2 linked regions of the Homo sapiens genome follow. The protein of the gene in region 1 interacts with the protein of each later gene in a biochemical or structural test. Each region holds a gene or a part of one and is shown on either strand. Other genes may lie near its edges.

Region 1 (6,981 bases):
CCGGGAGGCAGAGGTTGCGGTGAGCCGAGATCACTAGATTGCACTCCAGCCTCGTAAACAAGAGTGAAACTCCGTCTCAAAAAAAAAAAAAAAAAAAAAAGAAAAAAAGAAAAAGAAAATCCTAGAATGATCGTCAGAGCTGTCTGTCAGGAATAAGATTAATAGATAAATAAAACTTTAAAAGTTTTTTTTAAAAAGAGAATCCTAGAAAGATCACCTATGAAGTCTAACACCAGCATTTTAAAAAGTGCCTCTTTCTGGCCAGCACAGTGGCTCACACCTGTAATCCCAGCACTTTGGGAGGCCGAGGCGGGACGATCACCTGAGGTCAGGAGTTCGAGACCCACCTGGCCAACATGGCGAAACCCCGTCTCTACTAAAAATACAAAAATAAGCCGGTCGTGGTGGCGCATGCCTGTAAAACCCAGCTACTTGGGAGGCTGAGGCAGGAGAATTGCTTGAACCTGGGAGGTGGAGGTTGCTGTGAGCCGAGATCGCACCACTGCACTTCAGCCTGGACGACAAGCAAGCCTCCGTCTCAAAAAAAAAAAAAAAAAAAGTGTCTCTTTCTGTCAGTAAGAAAACTATTGTTCAGTGTCATTGGTTACTAATCAAACATTACTACTGAGTCACGACTCACACATCCAGCAAAACTTTAACCTGAAAATGCAAAGTTGATGCTCGAAAGTGATAAAATTCCACCCATAAGTAACCATTTGTTTTACAAAACATCTGAATTTACAAAATTAATTTTCTTAGCATTATCAGCCTTAGCAAATATATCTTCATTAAAGTCAAGCCCATCACAACAAATGAAACACTTCTATAAAAGAAAAAGAAAGAAGAGAGAAAGGAGAAAAGAACAGAACAGAACAACACTTGGCCCAGCATGGTGCCTCACTCCTGTAATCCCAGCACTTTGGGAGGCCCAGGCAGGAAGATCGCTTGAGCCCAGGAGTTCCAGGCCAGCTTGGGCAACATAGGAAGATCCCGTCTCGAAAGAAAAAGCAAGAAAGCAAAACCCCGGGGAAGATATTAAATAATCCTCATAGACCAATTAAATGCTAAAACTTCCTATCAGGTTCATTAACAGTGTTTAAGAAAAAGACAAAATGTTCTCATGTACAAATTGAACTGCCTATCAGATTATTTTAAGATCTAGTTCTCCAGAATTCCCAAGAAAGTAGGACTCCTATTTGGTTTAGAAACGCTCAATATACTAAGAAACAAAACAGGGACATCTGGCACCGGCTCTATTCGTAAAGGCAACATTCTCTAACAGATTACGCTCACATTCAATTGTAAACTCCACTAACAACTAACAAGCTTCAGGTCAATAGATAACAACACACTGAGAGGCTGAGGAGGACAGATCACTTGAGGCCAGCAGTTTGAGACCAGCCTGGCCAACACAACGAGACTACTATCTCAACTAAAACTACAAAAAATTATCTGGCCGTGGTGGCGCGCGCCTGTAGTCCCAGCTACTCCGTAGGCAGAGGCAACAGAATCGCTTGAACTCGGGAGGCGGAGGTTGCAGTGAGCTGAGATCGCGCAACTGCACTCCAGCCTGAGCGACAGGGCGAGACTCTCTCCAAAACAACAACAACAACAACAACAACAACACATGAAAAAGAAATATAAACAGCCTTAAGATGTCCCCACCCAAGTGCTCAGTCGCACATAAACGCAGGCTGCACATGACATGCATTCAAGACACAATGCTGAGTTTGCTTGATACAAAGCTATAGAAGACAGGATCCCAGCTGACACCAGCAAACTTATTCTAGCTTTCAGGGAAACTCAGATGAAATGCGTCTTTGTGAAATCCCTACTCTAAACTCTCGATTAAACCTGAGCACACTTTGAACGCGACAGTCCGCTCCCTCCTAATCCTTAGAAAGCATTTCCTGCCTGCAAAACCTTTCTCCCGCAAGCCTTCTACAAACTTTTTCCGTTCTTTCAACCTACTCCACGAAGCCTTAAGCCCGCCCCTCACCTCCCGCCCCCTACACACACACACACACACACACACACACACACACACAAACACACCCCTCCCCACTAGGGAACCTCAACACTCTGCAGACGCCACTCCACAAGGACACGCAAAACACATGTGCCTGCAAACCCAGCCCCTTTCCACACCCCCCGGAAACGACACCCCCTTTCTCACACTCCGCACGCCACAGCCCATCCCCCTTCCTCCCCGCCCCCCCTTCACATCACCCCAGTCCTCCCACCCACGTTCCCGGGAACCCAACCTCCCCGCGCTCTCCGACTTGCCGAAGGCAGTGGGGAGGGGAAGCAGGAAGAAGGAAGGAGGGCTCAGGCCCGGCCTAGGCCTCTCAGACCGCCTTGGGAGGTGAGGGGGGGAGCCCGCGGGCCGTGCTCAGCTCCCGTCGGCAGCAGGGCCTCATCCGGCCCAGGCCTGCCCTCCGCCGCCGCGGCCCGCCCCGCCCGAAAAACACTCACTTGCCAGCCGCGGTCCATCGAGTCCCCCGCTACTGCCTCCTCCGCCGGCTGCGGCTCCGGTCCCCGGGTCCCCCAGGTCCGGCTTCTTGGGCCCGGGGGGCGGCCCAGCTCCCCCGCCCGCGACGGCTCCCGGCGGAAAGCCGGCCACGGGTGCACCAGCCAGAGCCAGGGGGACGCTGTTGCTATGGAGGCCGAGGCCCGGGGCAGCCCCGGCGGCAGGGTCCTCATGCAGGAACTGACACTCCTCCCCGTAGAAGCAAGTCTTATCCTTAGCGTAGTAGCGGCAGTACTTCAGCTTCACTCCTACCGCCGCCCCGCCGGGGACACCCCCGACCCCCGGCGGGGCCACCACCGCCACCGCCGCCGCCAGCGAGGAGGAGGAAGGGGAGGCGGCGGCCGAGGGGGGCGGGAGGCCGCCGCCACTGTTCATGGCAACGCCGCAGCCTCGTCTTCCGCCGCCGCCCGAGGAGCCGCCGCCGCCACCACCATAGACGGGGGAGGAAAGGAAGACGCTGCCGGTGCCGGATAAAAGCCTGGGCGGGTGGGTCTGTCCCGCTGCGGGAGCCGGAGCCGCCCGGGGAGAAGGGGGAGGGGAGAGGGGAGGGAGGAGGGGGTAGAAGGAGGGAGGGTAGGGGGAGAGTTGGGATTCTCTCACTCACTCTCTCGTTCTCTTTTCTTAAAGGGGCCGCGCGGGACGACGGGGTGAGCGCGCGGGCCCAGACGGGGACTTCGAGGGCGCGGGCAGGGGAAGAGGGAGCGGCAGCGGCAAGCGGGTGGGGAAGGCGGAGGGGCCGGTTTATTTTTAAATTCTGCCTCCACTCGCTCTCTCGCGCTCTGGTTCCTCCGAGTTGTTTATTCCATTTTCCTCTTCCTGAGACGGCCGTCGCCGCTGCGCGTGCGCGCTGAGACGCGAGGGCTTATGGGTAGCGGGAGCGCTAGGGGAAGCCTGGCCGGCGTCGGGCCCCCGGGGGCATCCGCGAGCTATCGGCGGTTGGACCGGCGGCTCTCGGTGGGGTTCCGGACGCGGATCTGGCGCCGAATTCTCACGAGACCTGATACCTTCCTTATTTGTATATTCTCTTACTTAAAAAGCCAGATGTCTTTTTTTTTTTTTTCATTGAAAAGAGAAAATTGACAAGGTAAACGGTCGTTTGGAGGGGCCACCTGGGGACGCGGCCCGAGCCCTGGCTCTACCTGAAGAATATCTTCTATTTGCCACACTTCCTCTCCCCGTTTCCTTTCTTCGCCCCTCTCCTCTTTCCCCTTCCCCTCGAAGGTAATGAGAACTACTGGACCGATTACGCTAACCTCTTGGCCCTTTGTCAAAAAATGGAGCCAAAAAGGTTGATTTAGACAGACCCCCTGCTCAGTGCAGCACCTGTTATTCTCTGTATTTATATTACCAAGGGCCTTCGGTAAATTATGAAAAATAGGATGCCACCTGGGACAACACTGCTTAGACAGCACTGGAAGACCTTTATAAATATACTAGGTTGCTTTTCTCCAATCAGCCTAGCCTTGATTTGAAATTCATTTTTATTTTTTTTGAGACGGTGAAATTCATTTTTAAAAGATAGTTTTAACCTCAGCGATCTCTGATGTTTGCGCTAATACCCTTTTAAAGGCTTTCAGAAATTTTAAAGAATTGCTATGAAAGGAAAAGTAACATTCTAGTTTTTCTCTGTAAAAGAGGTTCACAAACGGCAGATCGCTGTTATGAAAAGGAGGGGTGGAAGTATTTAAGGAATTGTGGCAAACAAAGTCACAGAAGAATGGATATAAGCAAAAGTAGCACACTGAAAAAAATGGGGAAAAGTGGAGTCTAGATCACAAACTGGTAAGCTTGGTGATGTTCTCTAGCCAAATTCGAAGGTAATAACATTGTATTATGGCTTTCTGTTTAAAAGCAGTTTCGCTTATTTGATTATTCAACAAATCTTTATTAACACGCATTACGTGTACCAGAAACTGTGGTACACTTAACTGTGGAGCTGGGGAAGCAAAAGTGAACATGCCGCCTTAAGTGAGTTCAGATGGCTTATCTTCCGGTTGGGGAGGCATCAAGTACACAGGTCCGTTGTAAACCAGTGTCTTAAGTGCTAACCTTATCACATTTGCTATTAGAGGATATTAAACATGTCAGACTTCTTGGAGAAAGTTGATATTTTCATGTTCCAAGTTTGGGAACATCATTGAATTCAGACAGATCTGGATTGAAACAGATTAAAGTGCCTACACTTTAATAGCTGTGTTCCTCTCAGTTAATTGCTTCATTTCTCTGTGCCTTGTCTGTACACCTGGATTAAGAATAGTACCTACTTCATAAAGTATAACTAATAATGTATATAAACTGTCCCATGCCTAATAAGAATTCGGTAGGTTGTAACTATTATTAATAGTATTGGCCAGGCGCAGTGGCTCACGCCTGTAATCCCAGCACTTTGGGAGGCCAAGGCGGGTGGATCACCTGAGATCAGGAGTTCGAGACCAGTCTGGCCAACCTGGTAAAACACCGTCTCTACAAAAATACAAAAAAATTACTGGGCGTGGTGGCGAGCGCCTGTGATCCCAGCTACTGGGGAGGCTGAGACATAAGAATCACTTGAACCTGGGAAGCAGAGGTTGCAGTGAGCCGAGATCTCGTCATTGCACGCCAGCCTGGGCGACAGAGCGAGACTCCATCTCGAAAAAAAAGTAGTATTGCTGCTAGTGGTAGTCAGTGTATAGTCAAAGAGCATTCTAGGCAAACAGCTTTTATTGTTAGAATACAGTGATAGTGGAAAATGGAGCAGAGTCCACAAAAGTCCTTGTAGGGCCATGTTAAAGAATTGAACTTTTGGCCAGGCGCAGTGGCTCACGCCTGTAATCCCAGCACTTTGGGAGGCTGAGGCGAGCAGATCACGAGGTCAGGAGTTCAAGACCAGCCTGGCCAACATGGTGAAACCCCCGTCTCTGCTAAAAATACAAAAATTAGCTGGGTGTGGTAGCAGGCACCTGTAATCTCACCTACTCGGGAGGCTGAGACAGAAGAATTGCTTGAACCCGGGAGGCAGAGGTTGCAGTGAGATCGCACCACTGCACTCTAGCCTGGGCGACAGAGCAAGGCTCCATCTCAAAAAAAAAAAAAAGAATTGAACTTTTTCTTGAGGACAATTGGAAGTTATTACAGGGTTTTTAAAAGTCAACATGGCAGGGCACAGTGGCTCACACCTCTAACCTCACTGCTTTGGAAGGAAGCCAAGGCAAGAGGATCACTTGAGGCCGGGAGTTCAAGACCCTCTTGGGAAAACTAGCAAGACCCTGTCTATACAAAACAATTTAAAAATTAGCCAGGTGTAGAGGCACTTGCCTATAGTCCTAGCTACTGGGGAGGCTGAGGCAGAGGATCATTTGGGCTCAGGAGTTCCAGGATGCAGTGAGCTTTGAAGGCGCCATTTTATGCCAACCTGCACAGCAGTGAGACCCTCTCGGTCAATAAATAAAAAATAAACTTATTTGCCACACATTTCATATCTCCACACTTTTTTAGGAGACAACTACTTATTCCTATAGTAGGGTTGTCTTTTTAAGCAGGGTTCATTGTTGAGTATTCCTTTACTAAAAATAAATATGTAGTCAACTCTAAGTTATTTTCATGTTAATGAAGATTACATCCAAAACTGCAAATAATCCATAAATTATTCATAAAATGTATACTTGACCTCCAACAGCATTTCCCCAGCAACAGAGACTACATTGCTAAAGGGTAATGTTAATTTCTATTAAATGCTAATAATTGAGGCCAAGCGCATTGGCTCACACCTGTAATCCTAGCACTTTGGGAGGCGGAAGTGGGTGGATCACTTGAGGTAAGGAGTTTGAGACCAGCCTGACCAACGTGGTGAAACCCCGTCTCTACCAAAAATACAGAAAATTAGCTAGGCATGGTGGCAGGCACCTGTAATCCCAGCTTCTCGGGAGGCTGAGGCAGGAGAATTGCTTGAACCTGGGAGGCGGAGGTTACAGTGAGCCGAGATTGCGCCATTGCATTCCAGCCTGGGCAACAGAGCGAGACTTCATCTCAAAATTAATAATAATAAAGATTGAGAGGAAAACGTCACATTTTCTGAATGGTTAATTATTATATTAGTGATAGCAGCCTGAGTCTTAAAAATTCTCCCTTAAGGACAAGCATGTGGCTCACACTTATAATCCTAACACTTTAGGAGGTCAAGGCAGGAGAATCACTTGGCTCAGAAGTTCTGAGACCAGCCTAGGCAACATAGGGAAACACTGTCTCTACAAAAAAATTTAGCTGGGCATGGTGGCATTCTGTGGTCACAGCTACTTGGGAGGCTTAGGTGGGAGGATTGCTTGGGCCAGGAGGTCGAGGCTGCAGTGACAGCCTAGGTGACAGCAACCCTGGTGTCACCTGGTGAAAAAAAGGTGACCCTGTCTCAAAAAAAAATAAAAATTATCCCTTAAGATAGAGTGGAAACTGCATGTGGATAAATGAGAGTTGACTGT
Region 2 (7,411 bases), on another chromosome or scaffold:
CGGAGTAGCTAGGACCACAGGCATACCCCACCAAGCCTGGCTGACTTTTTTTATTTTTTTGTAGAGGCGAGATCTCACTATGTTTGTTGCCCAGTCTCAAACTCTTGGGCTCAAGTAAACCTCTAACTTTGGCCTCCCAAAGTGCTGGGATTACAGGCATGAGTCAACACCATGGCCAGCCTTGCTTTTATATTTATTCATTTTTGGGGTTTATTAACTCTTTTTCTAGATTTTTGAACATATATATATATATATATATTTTTTTTTTTTTTTTTTTTTTTTTTTTGAGACAGAATCTCATTCTGTTGTCCAGGCTGGGGTGCAGTGGCATGATCTTAGCTCACTGCAACCACCATCTCCCAGGTTCAAGTAATTGTCCTGCCTTAGCCTCCCAAGTAGCTGGGATTACCAGCAGGTACCACCATGCCCAGCTAAATTTTGTATTTTGAGTTGGGTTTTCACCATGTTGGCCAGGCTGGTCTTGAACTCCTGACCTCAGGTGATCTGCCTGGCTCAGTCTCCCAGAGTGCTGTGATTACAGGCGTGAGCCACCACGCCCAGCCTTTTTCTAGATTTTTGAGTTAAATACTCAGTTCAGTTATTTTTCAATCTTGTTTTCTTCTTTTTCTTTTTCTTTTTTTTTTTAGAGACAGAGTTTTGCTCTATTGCCCCAGCTGGAGGGTAGTGGCACGACCTTGCTCACTGCAGCTCACTGCAACCTGCAGCCTCCACCTTCTGGCTTCAAGTGATTCTTGAGCCTCAGCCTGCTGAGTAGTTGGGACTACAGGCGTGTGCCACCATGCCCAGCTAATTTTTGTTATTTTTAGTAGAAACGGGATTTTGCCATGTTGGCCAAGCTGGTCTCGAACTCCTGGCCTCAAGTGATCCACCCACCTCGGCGTCCCAAAGTGCTGGGATTACAGGTATAAGCCACCATGCCTGGCCAATCATGTTTTCTGATAAAAATATTTTGAGGAATGGTATGTAACCTCCAAAGGTGCCAGCTTTGAAAGATAACAGTCATTTGAATGTTCTTGTTTTTAGTTTTAGAAAATAATTTTTATGGCTGAGGCCGGCAGATCACGAGGTGATCACGAGGTGATTTAGTGAAACCCCGTCTCTACTACAAATACAAAAAAATTAGCCGAGCGTGGTGGCAGGCACCTATAGTCCCAGCTATTCGGGAGGCTGAGGCAGGAGAATGGCGTGAACCCGGGAGGCGGAGCTTGCAGTAAGCCGAGATAGCACCACTGCACTCTAGCCTGGGCGACAAAGCGAGACTCCATCTCAAAAAAAAAAAAAAAAATTTATTTCTTTGTGTCCTTACCTTACAATAATATAATTTTAAAATATTGTCTAATTGTTAATATGAAAAAAGTATAATAAATCTATCACAGAATCTATTATGTCTGGAAACACAAGGGAGAAATAATGTATTTATTGCACTTGTTTGTTTTAGATAAACGATTAGACTAATTGTATTAAATTTAGAGGTATTGCATAGAAAAGATGATGTGGAGGTTAAGGAAAAAATATTCAGTGGCCGGGCGCAGTGCCTCATGCCTGTAATCTCAGCACTTTGGGAGGCTGACGTGGGCAGATCACGAGGTCAGGAGTTCGAGACCAGCCTGGCCAACATGGTGAAACCCTGTCTCTATTAAAAATACAAAAATTATCTGGGCATGGTGGCATGTGTCTGTAATCCCAGCTACTCAGGAGGCTGAGACAGGAGAATCGCTTGAACCCAGGAGGTGGAGGTTCCTGTGAGCCGATACCATGCCACTGCACTCCAGCCTGGGTGACAGAGCAAGACTCTGTCTCAAAATATATATATATATGTTTTCAGCATATTATTTGAAATTAGAACCAATATTTTATTTAAAATATGTTTGTTCTGTTTCCAAACTTTTCATGCAGTTTGCTATTTAACACTTACAAGGCAACACATATAAATATTTGTATACAATAATATTCTACACTGGGGAATGGAGACTTAGCAAAGTTCAGTTTCATAAAGAAAGCATGTCCATCACAAATTAAAACAAGGTGGATGTTCAGTCTCCACACATTTTTACAAATCGAGCCAGCTACAAGCAAGTAGGCTTTCAGTAACTCATCTGGAAGGTATTGGAAGGATAAAAATAGACTAAATAATCAGAATTTCCATTCTAGTAGTTTCCTGCTTTTTCCTGCATCTCAATTGTCAGTGCAGGGCCTGGCTATTTCACTCAGTGCTAGGCAAAGACAGTGGAAGCTTGTTAAGCCACAGCTATTCAGGCTACCAGATTGTCCAGGCATTGGCCTTTGCCTGCCATGAAACAGCTCCTTTCCTGTCGTCATATCTGAGTGGAAAGAGCAAAGGCGGGAGACTGTATAAAGACCCAGAAGCCAGGATGACAACAAGTGTTGTGGGATTTTACAAGCATTCGTAGGTTCCTTTTCAAGGAAAGCCGGGTTTCTAGAATCCATCAGTTGTCTGCTGGCTGGCATGGCAGCCTAGTTTATGGGAGAAGCACACTAGGGAATCCTCCCTTTTCTGGCTTATAGAGATAGGTGGAGTCGATAGTCACAGGGCATTCTCATGCACTTTTTTTTTTTTTTTTTTTGAGATGGAGTTTCACTCTTGCTGCCCAGTCTGGAGTGCAATGGCGCGATCTCGGCTCACCACAACCTCCGCCTCCCGGGTTCAAGCGATTCTCCTGCTAAGCTCAGCCTCCCTAGTAGCTGGGATTACAGGCATGTGCCACCACGCTGGCTAATTTTGTATTTTTAGTAGAGACGGGGTTTCTCCATGCTGGTCAGGCTGGTCTCGAACTCCCGACCTCAGGTGATCTGCCTGCCTCGGCCTCCCAAAGTGCTGGGATTACAGGTATGAGCCACCGCACCCGGCCTCATGCGCTTTTTACCATTTTAGTTACTTTCTTTCCTGAAGCCGTCCTTAAAACATAGATGAATGCGAGTTTCTGGGAACTATGTGACCCTCATTCCCCTACATTTTTTATATTCAGGTGGCAGATTTCCTCCTACTCAGCCCAGCCCTTCTGAATAGGGTCCAAGTCATTGATTTATTCATTTATTTACCTCCTATGTGGTGTTTGGTGTGGAGCCTCACAGAGCAGTGAAGACGTGGTGTTTTTCCTTATACAGTTTACAGTCTCCTGGGGAAGACTAATGTTAAGCACATTCTTTCATAAATTGCAATTATGACCATTGCTCTGAAGAAGTAGTAAAGGATATTATGGGAGTGTTAACAGGAGGGCCTGGTCTGGACTGCGAGGGTCAAGAAGCCTTCCCAGGGTGGAGGCGAACTTTTGAGATGGCCAGGAAAAGATGAACAGAACTACTCAAAGAAGCCAAGTGCAGAGTTTCAGAGGTGAAAGAAACCAAAGATACCATCTAGGGAAGCCCAATCTCCGCCGGCTACCAATGAGAAAACGGAGGCCAGGCAGGGTGGGAGGATGGGTAAGGGACTTACTTACTTGCTGTTAGCAGTGAAGTTACACGGCCTGTGAGCCGCGGGGGCTGGAGATGCAAACCGAGCTTGGGTTTCTTAAGTGGGTAGGAGTGGAGATGTATATGCGAAGGAGAAGGGATTAGGAGTGGTGGAAACCAGGTAGGTTTTAATTTAGTGCCTAGGCTCCCTCAGCTGCAGAGCTACCTCCTGCGGTGGGGGAGGGGATTAAAGATGACTCAGACCTGCCCTAGCCCAGAGAAACTCCGTTTGCAGTGCTGAAGCATAGTTTTTATTTGGGTTTGGGGGAGGAGGTACTGAACACACATACAGGCAAAACAATAAGTGTAGAGTTCAGAATTGGGAAACCAGTCCCTCTTCTGCAGCTGTTCAGCTGTGTGATTTGGGATAAGTCACTTAACCTTTCTGAATTGCAGTTCAGTTTATACTTTTGTGCGTTTCTTTCAGTCTTTTTCTATACATTTTAGGAGTTTCTTAGAGATCAGTCGTGCCCTGTATTTCACCTCATTCTTTCAAAGCTAAAGCCTCTTGTTTGGTAGAGCTGTGTTTCAGCCCCTTTTACAGAGCAGTTTGCCAGCCTGTGCTTGCCCAAACATCTAGAGAATAACTAGCAAGCGAGCCAGGAGAAGATCCAGGAGCTGTAAGAATCGTTAGCAACTGAGCATATTTCTATAAACCAATAAAGGTTTTTCTGTTTTGTTCATCTGTTACCCTTATGCTGTTGCCACTTTCACATGCAGTGTCTGTAGGCGGAGAGTATGAGATAACAGCATTTCACAAATGAAAGTGAGTGGAAAAGGGCTGCTTCCCCTTTAAGGCAGTCTCAGCTCCAGCTCCCTCCCCTTTCCTGATTGACAAACCTACCCGAAGTCACATGATCTGCCTCTATTTGAAGGTCACAAAAAGCTGCTTCCTTTAGAGACAGAGAGGGAGAGAGAGAGCAAGAGGGAGAGTGTGTGAGAGAGAGTTAGTTCAAGCCAAAATGGCCGACAGAGTCTCTGCTGGTTTCTGAATATTTAAAATACAAAAAAACAGATAGACAAAAAGAATTCATTTTTTGGACCTTTTTTCATTTCCATTTCTACCTTGTATGCCTCAATTTGCTGGATTTAAGCACTGCTGCACTTTATGAGGTTGGTAAATATTTTCAATTTTTTTTAACCAATTGATTTATATGGATCTTGTCTAACCGTTTTCACTGGTGGTGTTGCAAATCGACATTTGTCTAGCATGGAGACTGGCTTCAGACATTTCGTGGATCTGTGTAAATCAGACCCGTGATGTACTTTGGTTCGGCATTTTAGAAATGGAAAAGACGTGGTAAAATATTTAGATTTTGAAGTGATTTAATTGCACTTTTAATGTATATGCAGATTTTCATCATCGTTTCTATCTTGCAATAAATGAAGCTGCGAGTAATTGGAAATTTGCTATTTAGAAAGAGGTTTTTAAAAAACACAGACCTCCCCCTCCCCCCTTAAATCTGCTGCAAAAATTTGCATAAATATAAATGGGTTTGCATTCTTTCGGCTGCTAAGGCCGACAAAGGATCTGGGAGGGCAAGCCCTAGAACGGGAAAGCCTTTTTCTATCTTTTTATTTTTTAAACTGGGCCCTCCTTCCTAGAGAGATGTAAAACCTAAAGTAAGACCTAATACATTTTAAACATCAGGTTGGGGGCGGGTGAACACCAGGAGGTTTGGGGTTTGTAGATTCCCCTGCTTGAAAACCTCCCAAGCAATATGTGGCTCACCCCTCTCCTTTCTGCGCGCGCTCATTTGCACTGGGTCTCTGTGTGTGTTCTCAAATGTGCAGCCAGATGCGCTTTTATTTTGATCCTGGATTCAACCAAAGGGTAGGACTATGTTGTAAACATGGTGTTTTAAAGATATGAACAGCTATTCACCGCGATTAGAAATTATTTCTTTATCAGTTCTCCCTGTGTATTAGCCTTCTTCATTCCTCACGAAATAAAATTTTTGTTTAATTTTACACAGATGCAAAACTGAGTTTTTCAGCATAAATTCATCGTGTGAGTGTGTGGTTGCCTGTTTCGGCCATGTATCCACTGCGAAGTGGTCATTTAGGGTCACATGTATAAGTAGCAGTCTATGTGATTGTTAGTAACCCCTGAAGCTGTGCAGTGCCTGAAGTTAAATTCCATTACTCCTAATGCAGGATTCTGGAAGCCTGAGAGCAGGGAGGAAAGAAAGCTGAAAACTTGCTTTCTCAGAGCCTCCTCCCCCTATCATTGTGAGAGTGTGATGTAATGCTTCTCGGTCTGGTGGGCTGAAAGGATTGTAGTTTGTGATGTGGCGGGTAAATTGCCCCCACCCCTGGGTAAATTACTCCACCCCCCTGAGCACATCCCTGGCTCTGAGAGGCCTTGTTTTCTTTTCTCTTTTTTTCCTAATTTGTATCCTCCTGATTTATGCTGTGGCATATTGGCATGAGAAAGAGACTGTTCTTCTAAATCTGTTACAAAGTATAGTTTAGAAAAGGCATTTAAAATATGCAAATGGGTTGAATTGTCATATCCCCATCATTAAATATGTAGACGTGGATTAAAGCTAATTAAGCATAAATGGAATAATTTTGATCAGAAGGGAGCAGTGTTTTTTGTTGTTTCCTTTTTAATTAATCTAATTATGAGATGCTTACTGGGCCTGAAAGTGTTAAAAAAGATAAAGTGGAAAAAATGCTGGACCATTTTGAAAATTTGACAGTCTGGAAGAGGGTGTGTGGTGCTTTCAAAAGCTTTATTCACTCTTAAAATGGATTGGCCTCTTGTGCTGAAAATGGCCTGTTTCTTTGGGCCAATTGTGTGTAGATGAAGGGACTTTCACGCTAATTTAACAAAAAGACTTTCCATTTGAATACATAAGATAATTAAAGCCCTCTGTCTCTAACAAGCAAGGATTTTATTATTTTAAAAAATTAATGTTGTTATGTTAGTAATGGTAATAAATACAGAAGTGACTGTTTAGATTCACTGTAAATTTTTTGATGATATAAATTCAGCTTTTGTGTAAGAAGGATTGGAAACATTACATTAAAGAGGTAGTCTGGAACAAAGTTGTCTCTAAATTTTTTTACGGCTTGAATTTAAAGGGAAAAGATAGAGAAATTACCTTAGTGATAGAGAATGTTGCATTGTGGTAGACCTAAAGGAAAATCAGCTCTGATTTTTGTTGCTGTTTTTCTGAAAATGAAAGCACTTTTTTGGGGCTTTGCTTGTTATATGATTCATTTTACACCTATTTCCTAAAGTTGGTCTTACTGAAGAGGAGATAAAACCTAGGCTTTCCATGTTTTGCCATTATCTTGTTTTTGTGGCTGTGTAAACATATGAATGGCAGGTTAATTCAGTTTGCAGAGAGGAGGAACCAGAGCAGGGTACCTGCTGTCTTAGGCAGAACAGAGAATGATACAATGAATGCCATTTGATTCTTTGAAATGTTTTTTATAAATATTCTTTTCCCCTGGATAATTAAAAGGTGAGATAAATAAGACCTGGCTTCACGTATGGGAAGCATTATGGCTCTGGTGAGTTGATAGCTCGACTGCCATTTTGGATCTCAGATCCTGCAGAGCCAATCCTTCTGGCTCACCAACACGATGGTCATCCAGAAGGAAATGAAAATGAGTAATCAATTAAGTGTGCAGATGGATAGTATTTAATTTGTGCCTTCTGTTGAAGTTTTCTTTCTGTGAGTACTGTGAATTGAAGCTTTAAAAACTTTAAAGATGTGGCCGATGTTATGAAGAGCAATATCCAGGGGTGCTGGAACTTGCACGTTGTAGTTTTACTTTTTAAAAATGAGATGGCATATGCAGAGGAAGTTTCTTATTGGAGAAAGTGAATATAATCCCTATTAACTGCCACCCCCCCCACCAATCTATATTTCCTAATGCTGGATCAACTAGTGATAATATCACA

What was found. Proteins that work in one complex are often made in the same cells at the same time.
Region 2: the proteins of PAN3 (region 1) and TNRC6B form a complex in vitro, tested with the Homo sapiens proteins (one study listed by BioGRID and IntAct).

What each region holds. Positions count from the first base shown.
Region 1 is NC_000013.11:28,134,582-28,141,562, reverse strand, and holds the start of PAN3 (PAN2-PAN3 deadenylation complex subunit PAN3), read right to left. Parts: upstream 3,019-6,981; 5' UTR 2,906-3,018; coding exon 2,476-2,905; exon of another isoform or gene 2,389-2,475; intron 1-2,388. UniProt on the Homo sapiens protein: Regulatory subunit of the poly(A)-nuclease (PAN) deadenylation complex, one of two cytoplasmic mRNA deadenylases involved in general and miRNA-mediated mRNA turnover.
Region 2 is NC_000022.11:40,173,536-40,180,946, forward strand, and holds the start of TNRC6B (trinucleotide repeat-containing gene 6B protein), read left to right. Parts: upstream 1-4,389; 5' UTR 4,390-4,600; coding exon 4,601-4,605; intron 4,606-7,411.